Regions from separate parts of the Homo sapiens genome. Here region 2 is linked to region 1. The links come from fine-mapping of genetic effects on gene expression. Tissue or cell type: monocytes after LPS. Region 1 holds a variant in brackets; the other region holds the start of a gene. All regions are shown on one strand. Distances are from middle to middle.

Region 1 (8,104 bases):
CTGCTGCGGCAAGAAGGCAGGTGGCACGTGAGCCACCGCACCCGTCCTTCCCGGGCTGGTGGTATCTGCCTGTGTCCCTGTGCTTATGGCTGCTGGCGTAAACGTAGTTACTGGCCCCTCGTAGCAGGCCTCAAGGACTCCGTGGGCCCTACCTGTGCTCCTGTGTTTCTTGTGGCTGGGGCAGCAGCAGGCTGTGAGAAGCTCCTCCTTCATACGAGGGTTTCAGACCATGCTGGGTGTGCCAGGATGCCTTCGTGGGCAGTGGGTGGCAAGGCCGCTCCGTCCTGGCAAGCCTGCCCCTGCGCACTCGCGCGGTGGATGCATACAGGTGGCCGGTGCTCCCTTCCTTGAGAATGGAGGCCGCTTGGCGGGAGACACCCAAGGGAACGGCAGCACCTTGACAGGTTTGCTTCACTGCCCTTGGCTCCTGCCTTGCCGGAGTCTGTGTGTCCCTCAAGAGGGGCCGGTCTGCAGGGTACAGAGGGACCAAGGGATGTCCCCCCAGGGTACAGATGGTCCAGGAGGATGCTTTGCAGCTTCTCAGTGGGCATTGCCCCAGGGAGGCTGGTCTGCCCGATGCCAGGTGCTCAGGGATGGAGGATCCAAGCCTAAGCCACTTCCAGGCCTGTCAGGGCAACCTCCTCGGCTCCTGCAGCACAATCTTTCTGGTTCACTGCAGTAACCCTGGGTCCAGAACAGCCCTGACATGTCACAGCCCCTCCCCGTTCAAAAGCTGGTCTCTCAGCTCGTCCTCACAAGCACCTGTGAGGCAGGAGATGCCCTCCTTTGCAGGTGAGACACGGAGGCACAGAGGTCAGGCTGCTAAGGGTGCCACCAGGGTCTCCCCCACGCCCACAGAACCACCTCCTGCCTTCCACAGCAGCTGTGTGTGGGAGGAGGACAGTTGTGGGTGATTGCAGGCCAGGTGTGATGCTGAGCAGGAGAGGAGGAGCACAGGTGAAAGGAGCTTGTGTCCCATAGGCTGGGGGTTTCTTTTTCCAATGCAATGTGATCTCCCCCTACCCCCTGTCAGACCCCCTTGGGCTGCTGGTGAAGAAGTGTGAGTAACTAGACTCCTCAGTTAGTGACAGGCTTTTTTCCCCAAGCCAGACAATGGGGAGTTCACAAAGGAGTTTGGATCTTAGATCATAAAGTGAGTCCCTTGCTTAGTGTTCTGCAGGATGTGGTTTAGTTTCAGGATCTGAGTTCTAACTGCCAATCTCAGGCCACTGGCGGTAGTGGGAGGCTGCTGTGGGTCCAGCCTGGGGGCCTGGCCACCCATACAGTGTCAGATTAGAGCCAAAGGCCACAGAGCTGGGTGGAGGGCGCTGCTTCCTTGTGGGAGCCTATGACATTTTGCCCGTTACGTAGAAATCCAAGCTAACTGGCCCCAGAGTTGCTGCCAGGTTGAAGTGTCCACTCCGAGACGTTTTGGGCAGAAGCTTGCAGATTTGCCCCTCCATTTAACTTAGGGGACAAGGGCTATGCTGACCTCCCCAACAGTGGCCTGGGGCAGGGAGCGGGAGAAGTGGCAGGCCCTGTGGGAAGGGCTGCAGGAAAGGAGGGGCCAGAAGTGGGGCCAGGCAGCAGTTCACCCACCCCAGCGCCCCTTTAGTCAGGACCTGCAGTGTCCAGCATGGTGGGCTCAAGCCCCACGTGGCCATCAGACACCTGGAAAGTGCCCCGTCCAAATCGACATGTGCCACAAATGAAAACACTTGATTTCAAAGACTCAGTATGAAAAATCAAATCAAATCTCTCACCGATGATTTTTTTATATTGATTGCATTTGGAATTATATTTTGGATTTAAGGTAAATAAAGTGTATTACTGTATTTAATGTTACCTGTTTCTTTTTACATTTTATTTTATTTTATTTTTATTTATTTATTTTTAGGCAGAGTCTCACTCTGTCAGCCAGGCTGGTGTGATCTCAGCTCACTGCAACCTCCACCTCCCGGGTTCAATCGGTTCTTGTGCCTCAGCCTCCCGAGTAGCTGGGACTACAGGCGCGCACCACCACACCCGGCTAATTTTTGTATTTTTAGTAAAGACAGGGTTTTGCCATGTTGGCCAGGCTGGTCTTGAACTCCTGGCCTCAAGCTATCCACCTACCTCAGCCTCCCAAAGTGCTGGGATTACAGGCATGAGTCACCACGCCCAGCCTCCTTTTATTTTATTTTATTTTTTATTTTTTATTTTTTCCTTTTATTTTAAAGTTAAAAAGTAGCTCAGAGATAGTGATTTTAGGTGAAGGATTTGGGCTGTGGCCTCTGTGCCCAAAACTTCTGTCTTCAATTAGATCCTTTCATTTCTACAAAGCGGGCACCACAGCCTCACATCATTTGATCATTTGATCTTTCTTTTTTTTTTTTTTCCGGAGACAGAGTCTCGCTCTTTCGCCCAGGCTGGAGTGCAGTGGCGCGATCTCGGCTCACTGCAAGCTCTGCCTCCCGGGTTCACGCCATTCTCCTGCCTCAGCCTCCTGAGTAGCTGGGACTACAGGTGCCCGCCACCACGCCCAGCTAATTTTTTGTATTTTTAGTGGAGACGGGGTTTCACCGTGTTAGCCAGGATGGTCTCGATCTCCTGACCTCGTGATCCGCCTGCCTCAGCCTCCCAAAGTGCTGGGATTACAGGGGTGAGCCACTGCGCCCGGCCGATTTTTTTTTTTTAAGAGACAGTCTCAATATGTTGCCTGTAGTGATACATAACAATTGTACGTATTTATGGGGCACATGTGATATTTTGACATTTACACATGCATGTGGCCAGGCTGGTCTCAAACTCCTTGCCTTAAGGGATTCTCCCGTCTCAGCCTCCCAAAATGTTGGAATTACAGGTGTGAGCCACAGTGTCTGGCCATTAATGTTTTTTAGAGGCTTAATGTGTTTCCTGGGTACTTGAGATACAGTGGCAAATGAGAGTGTTGGGAGATGATGAGTTTGATTTAAAAGGCATTTCGAGACATACAAATAAAGATGTCCTGTAGAGAGTTGGATATATAGATAGGAAATTCAGGAGATGTGGACTAGAGGTTAGATGCCACCAACATCTACAGAAGATAATTTAGCCATGGAAGTGTATGAAATTGTCCAGTGGGTATGTCAAATGAAGAGACAGATGGCTTTAGGACAGAAAGAAATATTAACCTTTTTTTTTTTTTTGAGACAGAGTCTCACTCTGTCACCCACGCTGGAGTGCAATGGCGCAGTCTTGGCTCACTGCAACCTCCGCTTCCTGGGTTCAAGTGATTCTCCTGCCTCAGCTTCCCAAGTAGCTGGACTACAGGTGTGTGCCACCACGCCCGGCTAATTTTTGTCTTTTTAGTAGAGATGGGGTTTTACTATGTTGGCCAGGATGGTCTCTATCTCCTGACCTCAAGTGATCCACCCACCTCGGCCTCCCAAAGTGCTGGGATTACAGGCATGAGCCACCGCGCCCGGCCAGCAATATGAATCTTTAAGGAATGGGCAAAGGAAAAGATGGAGTAGTGGAGAGGTAGAAGGAAAACCCAGAGTGCAGTGTCATGAAAATACAGGGAAGGGACGATTGAGAGGAAGGCACGGTCGAGTGCTCAGAGGGCAAGAATGACAAGAGTCCGCTGTTTTCAGCATAAGGAGGTCAGCTGGTGACTTGGTGAGGATGATTTTAATGGAGTAATGGGGTTCAAAATCCAACTGCAGTATTTCAAAGAGTGAACGAGAGGCAAGGGAAGTGGAGACAATGACAGCCCTTTCAGAAAGTTTGGCAGTGGTAGGGAGTACATAATCACTGGGGGAAAAACAGAAGGAAAGACACATTTTTAAAAGAAGTCAGAATAGGTATTAGAATAAGAAAATAAACTGCAGAGACAAGTATAAGGTTCTGGGAAGCGGCCAATAGTTAGGAGAAGTGCGTGAGGTGAGAATGCCCCCCTAGTTGATCGATGGATATGTAATAATTGTACCTATATATGGGGTACATGTCGTATTTTGATATTTACACACGAATACAATGTGCAATGATCAAATCAC[A/G]TTGATTATGATACCCATCACCTCAAACGTTTATCATTTATTTGTGTTGGAAACATTTCAAATCTTCTAGCTATTTTTAAATATGCAATAAATTATTACAACTATCATCACCCTAGTGTGCTATCAAACACTGGAATATATTTCTTCTATCTAACTTTATGTTTGTACCCATTAATCAACATATATTCATCTCCCACCCCATCCTTCCTAGCCTCCAGTAACCATCATTCTACTCTCTACCTACATTAGACCAACTTTTTTTTTTTTTTTTTGAGATGGAGTCTTGCTCTGTCGCCCAGGCTGGAGTGCCGTGGCGTGATCTTGGCTCATTGCAACCTCTGCCTCCTAGGTTCAAGTGATTCTCCTGCCTCAGCCTCCGGAGTAACTGGGATTACAGGCACGCGTCACCATGCCCGGCTAATTTTTTATATTTTTGGTACAGACGGAGTTTCGCCATGTTGGCCAGGCTGGTCTCAAACTCCTGACCTCAGGTGATCTGCCTGCCTCAGCCTCCCAAAGTGCTGGGATTACAGGCGTGAGCCACTGTGCCTGGCCAAGATAAACTTTATTAACTCCCACGTATGAGTGAGAATGTACAGTATTTGTCTTCTGTACCTGGCTTATTTCACTTAACATAATGACCTCCAGTTCTATCCATGTTGCTACAAACGACAGGAATTTTTTTTTTTTTTTTTTTTTTGAGACGGAGTTTTCCTCTTGTTGCCCAGGCTGGAGTGCAATGGCGCGATCTCGGCTCACTGCAACCTCCGCCTCCCAGTTTCAAGCAATTCTCCTGCCTCAGCCTCCTGAGTAGCTGGAATTACAGGCATGCACCACCACACCTGGCTAATTTTGTATTTTTACTACAGACGGGGTTTCTCCATGTTGAGGCTGGTCTCGAACTCCTGACCTCAGGTGATCTGCCTGCCTCAGCCTCCCAAAGTGCTGGGATTACAGGCGTGAACCACCGCGCCCGGCCTAGGATTTCCTCCTTTGACGATGAATAGTTCTCCACTGTGTAAGTGTACCTCATTTTCTTTATCCATTCACATGCTGATGGACACTTAGGTTGATTCCTATCTTGGCTATTGTGAATAGTGCCGCAGTAAACATGAGTAAAGACAACTCTTTGATATACTGATTTCCTTTCTTTTGGAAATATACCCAGCAGTGGGATTGCTGGATCATATGGTAGGTCTATTTTTCAGCTTTTTGAGAAAACTCCAGTGTTTTCCACAGTGGCTGTATAGTTTACATTCCCACCAGCAGAGTACCTGCTTTCTCCACATCCTCACCAGCATCTGTTGTCTTTTTGTTAATAATCATTTTAACTGGATGAGATGATATCTCATTGTGGTTTTGATTTGCATTTCTCTGATGATTAGTGATGTTGACCCTTTTTTTTTTGGCTTTTTTTTTTTTTTTTTTTTTGAGACAGAGTCTCTGTCACCCAGGCTGGAATGCAGTGTGCAATCTCAGCTCACTGCAACCTCTGCCACCCGGGTTCAAGCAATTCTTGGGCTTCAGCCTCCCAAGCAGCTGGGACTACAAGCACAAGCTACCATGCCCAGCTAATTTTTGTATTTTTAGTAGAGACAGGGTTTTACCATGTTGGCCAGACTAGTCTCAAATTCCTGGCCACAGTAATCCACCTGCCTCAGCCTCCCAAACTGCTGGGATTAACAGGCGTGAGCCACTGCACCTGGCCCCTGTTGGCCGTTTGTACATCTTTTGTAAAATGTCTATTCAGATCACTTGCCTTTTAAAATCAGATTATTACTATTATTATTTTTTTTTTTTGCTATTGAGTTGTGCGAGTTCCTTATATATTCTCGTTATTCTTTTTTTTTTTTTTCTTTTTTTGAGACGGAGTCTCACTCTGTCGCCCAGGCTGGAGTGCAGTGGCACGATCTCGGCTCACTGCAACCTCCACCTCCCGGGTTCACGCCATTCTCCTGCCTCAGCCTCCCGAGTAGCTGGGACTACAGGTGCTCACCACCGCGCCCGGCTAATTTTTTTGTATTTTCAGTAGAGACGGGGGTTTCACCGTGTTAGCCAGGATGGCCTCGATCTCCTGACCTCGTGATCCGCCCATCTTGGCCTCCCAAAGTGCTGGGATTACAGGTGTGAGCCACTGCGCCTGGCCTATTTTTTTTTTTTTTTTTTTTTTTTTGGCAAACCCATTTCTGTAGGATATTCTGGTCATTCATCCCTTGTCAGATGGATAGTTAGTAAAAAATTTCTCCCATTCTGTAGGTTGTCTCTGTTGTTTCCTTGGCTGTGCAGGTTTTTAGAGTGATATAATCCCACTTATCTATTTTAGCTTTTGTTGCCTTTGCTTTTGAGATCTTACCCAAAAAATCTTTGCCCAGACCAGTGTCCTGAAGCATATCCCCAATGTTTTCTTCTAGTAGTTTCATACTTTCAGGTTTTACATTTATGTCTTTCATCTTTAATCTATTTTGATTTGATTTTTATATATGGTGAGAGATAGGTTTTTGTTTTGTTTTGTTTTTGTTTGTTTGTTTTACAGAGTCTCACTCTTTCTCCCAGGCTGGAGTGAAGTGGCGTGCTCTCAGCTCACTGCAACCTCCACTCGCCGCTCCACTCCCTGGTTCAAGCAATTCTCCTGCCTCAGCCTCCCAAGTAGCTGGGATTACAGGTGTGTGCCACCACACCTGGCTAATTTTTGTATTTTTAGTAGACAGGTTTCGCCATGTTGGCCAGGCTGGTCTCAAACTCCTGACCTCAAATGATCTGCCCACCTCGGCCTCCCAAAGTGCTGAGATTACAGGCATGAGCCACTGCACCCGGACAAGATAGGGTTCTAGTTTCATTTTTCTGCGTATCCTCAAAATGTATTTCCAGTTTTCCCAGCACCATTCACTGCTCTTTCCCCAGTTAATGTTCTTGGCACCTTTGTTGAAAATCAGTTCACTGAATATATGGACTTATTTCTGGGTTCTCTATTTTGTTCTATTGGTCTATGTGTCTGTTTTTATATCAGTAACATGCTGGGTTTTGTTTTTTGAGACAGGGTCTCACTCTGTTCCCCAGGCTGGAGTGCAGTGGCACGACTTTGGCTCACTGCAAATTCTGCCCCCGGGTTCAAGACATCCTCCCAAGTAGCTGGGATTACATGTGTGCACCACTACGCCAGGCTGATTTTTGCATTTTTAGTAGAAATGGAGTTTTGCTATGTTAGCCAGGCTGGTCATGAACTCCTGGCCTCATGTGAGCTGCCCACCTTGGCCTCCCAAAATTCCGGGATTATAGGTATGAGCCACTGTGCCTGGCCCATGCTGTTTTGATTATTATAGCTTTGTACTATATTTTAAAGTAGTGTGATGCCTTCAGCTTTGTTCTTTTTGCTCAGGATTGATTTAGGCTGTTCAGCGTCTTCTGTCATTGTATATGAATTTCGGGATTTTTTTTCCCTATTGCTGTGAAGAATGTCATTGGTATTTTGATGGGGATTGCATTTAATCTGTAAATTGCTTTTGGTAGTATTGTCATTTTCACCAAATTAATTATTCCAATCCATGAACATGAGATGACTTTCCGTTTTGTGTGTGTGTGACCTATTCATCAGTGTTTTATAATTGTCCTTGTAGAGCTCTTTAACCTCATTGGTTAATTTTCTTTTTTTTTTTTTTTTTTTTGAGACAGAGTCCGGCTCTGTCATCCAGGCTGGAGTGCGATGGTGCCATCTCGGCTCACTGCAACCTCCGACGCCCAGGTTCAAGCGATTCTCCTGCCTCAGCCTCCCGAGTAGCTGGAACTGCAGGTGTGTGCCACCAGGCCCGGCTAATTTTTTGTATTTTTAGTAGAGATGGGGTTTCACTGTATTAGCCAGGATGGTCTCAATCTCCTGACCTCGTGATCCACCATCTCGGCCTCCCAAAGTGTTAGTATTACAGGTATGAGCCACTGCGCCCAGCCTCATTGGTTAAATTTATTCCTAGGTTTGTTTTTTGGTTTTGGTAGCTATTGTAAATGGAATTGCTTTCCTGGTTTTTTTTGGTAGTTTGGTATGTAGAAATGTTACTGGGTTTTGTATGTTAATTTTGTATCCTGCAACTTTACTG
Region 2 (8,104 bases), 36 kb before region 1:
CTCTTCACCTGCAGACAGTGGGTGGGCCAATCCCAAATGTCCATCTGATCACCAGTTTTCTCAAGCTGCTTCTGGCCCATTTGTGTTGGTCTGGGTCCTCCAAGAAGAAGACACCAAGATTAAGGATACAAACGTCGTGTTCAGAGAAATGTCTGGGGTAGAAAATAGTGAGGTAACCAGGAAGATGGAGGGGCCATCAGATGGCTTCAAGCTTGACACCAAGTGGAGAGAAGTTTGGGTGGAAGTGTCTCAGGCAGCTCTGCGGTGATGCCTTCCCACCGCAGCTGACAGTTGGAGAATGACATTGGTTTGTGCCATTACTTGTGGTTTTGTCTTAGATCATTTGACCAGGGTGCTGTTTGCCTGGTTTGTCTCCTGTGAAGTTACCTTATTCCCCTTTGTAATTAATAATAATTACATTGCATGGTGATGTTTTGACACTGTGTAAACATCCTGAGCCTCATGCCCTGGAGACACCTGGCTTTCACAGGTATTGGTGCTTCTTGCCTGAGTTACCACCATGGTGGCTGCTGTGGCTGACTGAGGATGCCACAGGTTCTTTGGCCTCCCTCCCTTTGAGAGCAGGAGCAATATCTTCAATGTCTTCTTGAATCTGGGCAGGCTCAGTCACTGCCTTGACCAAGAGAATGATGATAATTTGAGAAAAAATTTCCAAAAGGACTGCATATAAACATTAAACTTCAGGGTCCTGAAAGTCCAGGAGATGGAGAGGCTGTTCTAGACTGAAGGAGACAAGAAACAGGACAAGTGGGTGCAACTTGTGACCCTCGGCCGATTCCTGATGCTCTGAGGGATTGCTCCGCAGTAAGCAGGTCACACAAACCTACCCCCAAAGGCCAAGGGAGCTGAGAGGCTGAAAAAAGAGGCTGACAAATGGAGTTTCTCCAAAAGAAACATTTACTAGAAACTTATGAACAAAGTAGTATCTCGGGCAGCCACAAGACAGTGGATCCCTGCACCTGCCCCCCAGAAAGCATCCTTTATATAGCAAGCTTTTTGGTAAAAACATGTGCAGCTGGTGATGTCTTAGACTTTCTTGCAAAATTCATGACTGCTGGGGAAGTTAGGTAGCATCTTTCTGAGGGGTTATCAATGCTACAGGCCTTGTGTGAAGACCTTGGTATGCAGGAGTCTAACATCGGCCACCACAGTGATTTTGCTTCGAGATGACACCACTCTTGCCAGGCAACAGGCTCCTTTCCTTCAGAGACATTGCAGGGACACCTGGTGACCCTTGAATGGGGGTCTCTGGGAAGGTGCACTATTCATGCAACCTTTTATCTAAGCTTGAAATTGTTTCAAGCTAAATTAACTTACAAATGTTGATCATAGTAAGGAAGGAGACCACCACTTCTCCTACTGCCCTCCTCTCCCCCTGTCTTGCCTAGTTTATAAGACAGGAGAAATGGGAGAAAACAAAAAGTGAGAAAGAAACAGAAGATAAATAGCCAGATGACCTTGGTGCCATCACCTGGCCCTGGTGTTAATAATATCAACCCCTAACCTAAACTACTTGTGTTATCTGTAAATTCCAGACATTGTATAAGAAAGCATTGTAAAACTTTCTGTTCTGTTAGCTGATGCTTGTAGCCTCCAGTCATGTTCTCCATGCTTTCCCAGTCTATCATAATAACCCTTTCACGTGGACCCTTTAGGGTTGTAAGCCCTTAAAAGGGCCAGTAATTTCTTTTTCGAGGAGCTCAGCTCTTAAGACACAAGTCTGCCAAAGCTCCCAGCCAAATAAAACCCCTTCCTTCTTTAACCCAGTGTCTGAGAAGTTTTGTCTGTGGCTCATCCTGCTACAATAAGATGAGAGTTCTCCAGGCACTCCAGGCACTCTGGCCTTTGGGTGGGAACTGTCTCCAAAACTCACCCCCAGGTTCCTGGCTCTCCTCACTTCAGGAGGGGGTGGGTCTGCCACGTAACCACCGCCCAGACCTCACAAGTGATAGCACTTCACCTTTTTGCTTCAGATATTTTAAAGAGAAATAACACCTTACAGATGCAGTCTCTTTCTAAACTTCCCAGATCCATTCCCTTTAAACAATCCTCCCTCAGCATGGTTTTTAGACTTGATTTGTTTTGTCTTAGAAATGGAGTCTTGCCATGTTCCCCAGGCTGGTCTCAAATTCCTGAACTGAAGTGGTCCTCACTCTGCCTCTCAAATAGCTGGGACTATAGGTTGCCCTCACCTCCTGCTGTGAGGTCAGTTCCTAACAGGCCACTGACCTGTAGCGGTCCACAGCCTGAGGGTTGGGGACCCCTGCTATAGGTGCACACCACCACACCTGTTTTTTTTTTTAATTTTGTAAAAATGAAGCCTTGATATGTCGCCCAGGCTGGTCTTGAACTCCTAGCCTCAAGTGGTCCTCCCACCTAGTCCTCATAAAGTACTGGGATTGTAGGCATGAGCCACTGCACCCAGTCTCCACTCCTATTTATTATTGAACACTATTCCATTGTATGGCTGATGTGGTTTGCATCTGTGTCCCCGCCCAAACCTCATGCTGAAAGGTAATACCCAATGCTGGAGGTGGAGACTGGTGGGAAGTGATTGGATCGTGGGGGTGGCTTTTCATGAATGGTTTAGTACCATGCCCTTAAGTTATGGTCTCATGATAGAGTTCTCCTGAGATCTGGTTGTCCACCTCCGCCTCCCAAAGTGCTGGGATTACAGGCGTGAGCCACCGCACCCAACCTGTCATTTTTATTATAACCCTTCTAATGGTATGAAATGGCACCTCCCCGTGGCTTCCATTCGCATTTCTCTAATAGCCAACAATGCCGAAGGCTTCATGTACCCATTACCCACTTTGTATCTTCCTTGATGTCTACTCACATCTTCTGCCCATTTAATTAGGTTGTTTCCCTTTTCAGAGTTTTTTTTTTTTTTTTAAGTTTTATTGGGCTATAATTCACATACCATATAATTCACCCATTTTGTACAATTCAATGATTTTGGCATATTATTTTTTAACTATGGTAAAGTACATGTTAAATAAAATGGCTCGGCCATTGTTTCGGACCGAGCTCCTGCGCTAGGGCCCAACAGAGCAGCCCAAAGCGGAACCGAGTCACGCGCGCCGGACGCCACCCGACAGGAGGGGAAACGGGGCAGCTCTCAAAACCCTGGAGGCGCAGACCGTCCACACGGGACAGGGACGCCCGCTCGGCTCCGCTCCGCGCTGATCCTCAAGGTCTCGCGGTTTCCCCGCCGCCCACCCGGACGCCGACGAAAGCCAGCGAGCTCCTCAGCCTCAGGTGACTGGAATTCTGACCCCAGACCACGGGACGCGTTCTCCCGCTTTACCCTCACTCTGCGCGGGCGGGGAGGGAGACGCGGGCGCAGGCCGCAGTTTCTACCTCAGAAACGGAAACACAACACCGCCTTCTTTTTCTTTGGGGAAAGAAAAAAAAAAAACTGTCTAAGACGAGGTCTGGGACCCCGCCGGCGACCCCCGATTCCCCCGGGCGGGGAGGGGGCGGGACCTGGCGCGGCCTCGGCTCCGCCCCTCGGGCCAGCGGACCACAGTGGGGCGGTCATTGCTGCCTTCCTAGAGCGGCCCGGAAGTGGCTCTCAGGGCGCTTCCGGGGACCAGGCCCGCTTTTGGCTGCATCAGCCGGGGATTGCCGGCGCCAGGTGCTGGGGGCGACTCGGACAGCGGGAGCGTGGGGTGGAGTAGGATGGAGTCTCCCTCCCGAGCTGGGGGTGTGGGCCTAGGAAAGGCTGCTTCGCCGCTGTGTTCGGAGAGCTCTGGATACTGCGGGGCTTTTCCGCGGAGGAGCGCCCGCCGGTAGGTTGGCCCCGAACCGTGGGGGCGGCGACGGCCGAGTGCCAATTTGACTCTGTGCACCAAGGTCCCCGCGCCCCGGAACGGGCGACGCCGCGCCCCCATCAGAGCCGCGGGTACGGAGTCAGGGTGCGAACCCGGCCTTCCAAGCCGCGCGACCGGAAGCGGGCAGCTCGGAGGCCTTCCCGGATGGCTCTTTGGAGTGGGAAGGAGCTCCTGGTGCTGGCGGGACGGTGAAGGAGTTGGCAGTGGGTGGTCGTTGACTCCCAGGGAGAATGGGGCGCCGTGAAGCCCGTGGGGAGCTCCTGGGCTCCCCCAGCGCTGTGCAGAGTGGCCTGACAAGTGCCTCGAGGACAGGAGCTGTGCCCCGCTGAGCTCTGCTCCAGTACCTGGTGTGCTGAGGTGGGCACGTGCGTTTCCTCTGGCATAGCAGGTGCTTGTGCTGCTGCACTGCTCCTTCAGGTGCGTCGGAACCCTCTTTAGTTGCCGCACTTGCCTCTGTTGCCAGCCGTTGCTCAGCTCTTCCAGCCCGGGGGTTGGGGCTGTGGTGGAAACAGCTGGGACTTCTGAATAGACAGGTCTAGGCTTCAGTCCTTGACTTTGGCAGCTGTGTTTAGAGCTTTGATTTCTTTTTACTTTTCTTTTCTTCTTCCCTGCCTCCCCTCCCTCCCCCCTCCCTCCATTCGTTCGTTCCTTCCTTCCTTCCTCACAGCATCTCTGTTGTCCAGGCTGGAGTGCAGCGGCTCGATTTCGTCTCACTGCAGCCACGACTTCCTGGGCTCAAGGGATCCTCTGTCCTCTCAGCCTTCTGAGTAGCTGGGACTACAGACGTGCACCACCACGCCTGGCTAGTTTTTTAAATTTTTTGTAGAAACGGGGTCTTGCTATGATGCCCAGGTTGGTCTCCAACTCCTGGGCTCAAGCGATCCGCTGGCCTCACCTTCACAAAGTGCTGAGATTTCAGGCTTGAGCCACTGCACCTGGCCTAGAGCCTTATCTCCCTCTCTGTCAGGTGAGAATGGTAATTCTTCTTGCCCACTGTTGTGAAGGATTCAAGATTGAATAGTTAAATGGTCTCAGTGTGGTCTGTGGCGCCAGCTGCAGTGTCCCTGTGTTCCCCGGACCGTTCCCCTAGTTCATTCTTTCATCTATTAATTTACTTGGAGAACTTGTGCTGTTTCCTGGTCCTCCTCCCTGCCCCCTACTTCTCTGCCAATTCCTGCTTGTCCTTCATGCCTTAGATGTCACTTCCTCTGGGAGGCCTCCGCTCCTCCTGGGACTGACATGGACCCCTCTGCCACCTGCTTCCAGGGCCATCTCCGCAGCACTGACTGTCATTGGTAGTTCACACTGTCAGCATGCTGATGATGGGGACCATATCAACCCTCACTCGCTGGCCCAAAGGATGTGAGAGTCACTGGTCTTCTCTCCTCCACCCCACTCTAGGCATCTGCATCTGGGACCGACCTCCTGGGCTGGCTGATCAAAGAGGAAGCAGCAGCAATGTCTGCTGTGGGGGCTGCAACTCCATACCTGCATCATCCTGGTGATAGTCACAGTGGCCGAGTGAGTTTCTTGGGGGCCCAGCTTCCTCCAGAGGTGGCAGCAATGGCCCGGCTACTAGGGGACCTAGACAGGAGCACGTTCAGAAAGTTGCTGAAGTTTGTGGTCAGCAGCCTGCAGGGGGAGGACTGCCGAGAGGCTGTGCAGCGTCTTGGGGTCAGCGCCAACCTGCCGGAGGAGCAGCTGGGTGCCCTGCTGGCAGGCATGCACACACTGCTCCAGCAGGCCCTCCGTCTGCCCCCCACCAGCCTGAAGCCTGACACCTTCAGGGACCAGCTCCAGGAGCTCTGCATCCCCCAAGACCTGGTCGGGGACTTGGCCAGCGTGGTATTTGGGAGCCAGCGGCCCCTCCTTGATTCTGTGGCCCAGCAGCAGGGGGCCTGGCTGCCGCATGTTGCTGACTTTCGGTGGCGGGTGGATGTAGCAATCTCCACCAGTGCCCTGGCTCGCTCCCTGCAGCCGAGCGTCCTGATGCAGCTGAAGCTTTCAGATGGGTCAGCATACCGCTTTGAGGTCCCCACAGCCAAGTTCCAGGAGCTGCGGTACAGCGTGGCCCTGGTCCTAAAGGAGATGGCAGATCTGGAGAAGAGGTGTGAGCGCAGACTGCAGGACTGACCCCTCACTTGACCAGTCCCATTCAGATCCGGCTTGGACAGGCACCTGAGATGGTGCCAAAGTGCAGCTGACTCTTCCCACGACAGCCCTGCCCTTCCCATGAGGCAGGCTCTTCAGTGAGTGTTTGAACGTAATTATGTAGTTTTCTGTTTAATTGAAAAAGAGAGCTATGCCTTTTTTTCTTTTTGGAAGTAAAGCAGCTAAAAACATGTTTCTATAGGTGAGTGTTGGACCTCACACCCTCCCCTTCCCTGTACATTTGTCTTTGGTGCTGGACGTGGCCATGTGAGGCCAGGTTGAGGCCCTTTGTAGACAACATACAGTTGCTCAGCCTGGCCCCATGTAGCCAGGTGCTTTTGTAGATCTTGTGTTTTAGGTTGGGCATTTTCACTCTTCTGCCTTAAATCCCTGACCCCATGGAGCTGACATTCTAGTGCGGCTGAGGGGAGGGGAAACATTGTAAAATAAATCATAAAAATTAACTGGAATAGCTCATCAGAGGATGGCGTGTGATGCAGCAAGTAGGGTGGGGTCTGCGTGCTGATGGGGCGACCTTCCTTGAGGGTGTGACATCTGAGCGAGGACTTGAAGGAGCCGGGGGCACAGCGCTCTGAGGGGAGCAGCACAAGGTGGGGAGGACGGGGCTCAGGCGGCCAGTGTGGGGAGGCCTGACGTGCTTAAGGCCCGCCTGGCTGCAGCCAAGCAGGTGGAGATCATTGTGGGGAGGCGACGTTGGGGAGGGTACAGAGGTCAAGGCCTGAGAGCCTTTTAAGGACTTTGGCTCAATTCTGAGTGACAGAGGAGCCCTTCTGAGGGTTTTCAGCAGAGGAGAGACGTGATCTGGTGATTGGCTGCTGTGTGGAGGGGTGCAAGGGAGGAGGCTAGAGCCCAGCAGAGAGGCTGTCACCAGGGTGGAGTTGGTGGCAGGGACCTCTCCCGGGTGCCTCTAGGGCAGGTGTGTGCAGGGGTTGTAGCCAGCTTTGCAGCTTCCAGCATAACTGTGTTCCAGGAGGGGCCTTGGTGCTCGGTCTCTGCAGAGCCATTTTCGGTCAGCTGGCTTCCAGCTGACTGTTCCTGCCTCCGTGGAGCACTTCTGGACCATGTCTAGTCTGTTCTCTGCTGAGAAACCTCCCCTTGTCTTTGAGTGCCTGGGGTTGCTTGGCTGTTTGTCTTGTCTGCAGTTTTTGGGTTGTCTCCTCCACTAGCCTGGATTTCTTCCTCATCCCTCCATGGGCAGTTCTGACATGTCAGGGTACAGAGGAGTACCTGGGGGTGGGGTCAGTAGACTCTGGGAGGAGCCCAGGTGCCCTCTAAGGTGCATGCTTGTGGGTCCTGCCATCTGGTCGATCACTCAGCTTTGTCCCACCCTCACTGAGTTCCAGGTAAAGCCCTTCTCTCTCCCCGAAGGCACTGTCCCCCCACTGTCATCGGATCAGGAATATGACCAGCCACTTCCTGCATTCTCTGTCCCCAGATGTGGATGGGGCTGGGGCAGCTGGGACCATGTTGCCTTTCTCACTCACTGGCCCTGGCCCTGCAGGAACAGCAGCTTTAGGGACAGCCCCATCCTTCTGCTTCTCCCAGCTGCTTAGCAAAGCCTGTGTGGAGCCCAGAGCATGGACCTGCCCTCGGTCCTCAGGCTGACCTCTCGCCGTCTCTCATTGGGAATCTGTGTTTGCCTCAATTCATCTGTGAACCCTTGGGCTTGTCTCAAGCGGGGACCCAGGCAAATCAAGACACAGCCATGAAAAGACAGCTTATGAGACACAGGCAGGGGAGTGGGCCATTCCTGGGACTGGGGCTGGCACTGCCCGAGTATAGGGGATTGAGGGATGGGGGATCAAGTGCAGGGACAGCGGCTGGCCTCAAGGCCACACACAGGATTTTGGTCATTCCACTGGGGCAAGGGGGAGCAGTGGGGTTTTAATCAGGGCAGACATGATCCAGTTGGACTTGAGATCCCTACAGCGTGGAGCAGACTTAGAGGCCACTTCCTCTGACTCAGCAGTGAGCAAACTCTTCCCACAAAGGGCCAGAGAGTAAACATTTTAGATTTTGTGGGCCATGAAGTTTCTGTCCACCCTGCCATGGTGGCTTGAAAGCAGTCACACAAT

Direction of the effects. Alleles are on the strand shown, and positions count from the first base shown. SD is a standard deviation of normalised expression in the study named.
As copies of A replace G in region 1, the expression in monocytes after LPS of the gene that starts at base 3,606 in region 2 goes down (moderate effect, 0.69 SD a copy in Quach 2016).

Evidence for each region. PIP is the estimated chance that this variant, and not a neighbour inherited with it, causes the effect.
Region 2: it holds the start of COMMD5, and the variant in region 1 is fine-mapped to the expression of COMMD5 in monocytes after LPS (Quach 2016, PIP 0.95).

What each region holds. Positions count from the first base shown.
Region 1 is chr8:144,812,890-144,820,993 of GRCh38, reverse strand. LOC100130027 (a long non-coding RNA gene) reads left to right here. Exons shown (of 5, transcript NR_147501.1): 2 at 4,886-5,034; 3 at 6,550-6,678; 4 at 7,688-7,803. It also overlaps a transcript of ZNF517 not described here. Among named protein-coding and RNA genes, the nearest start is that of ZNF7, 11 kb to the left of the region's middle. The variant A/G (reference allele first, on the strand shown) is at 4,017.
Region 2 is chr8:144,848,550-144,856,653 of GRCh38, reverse strand. It overlaps COMMD5 (COMM domain containing 5), which reads left to right and starts at 3,606. Exons shown (of 2, transcript NM_014066.4): 1 at 3,606-3,815; 2 at 5,259-6,478. The coding sequence starts at 5,316. The coding sequence ends at 5,990. RefSeq lists enhancers at 2,986-3,085, 3,636-3,965, 3,543-4,391 and silencers at 3,376-3,565, 5,598-5,749.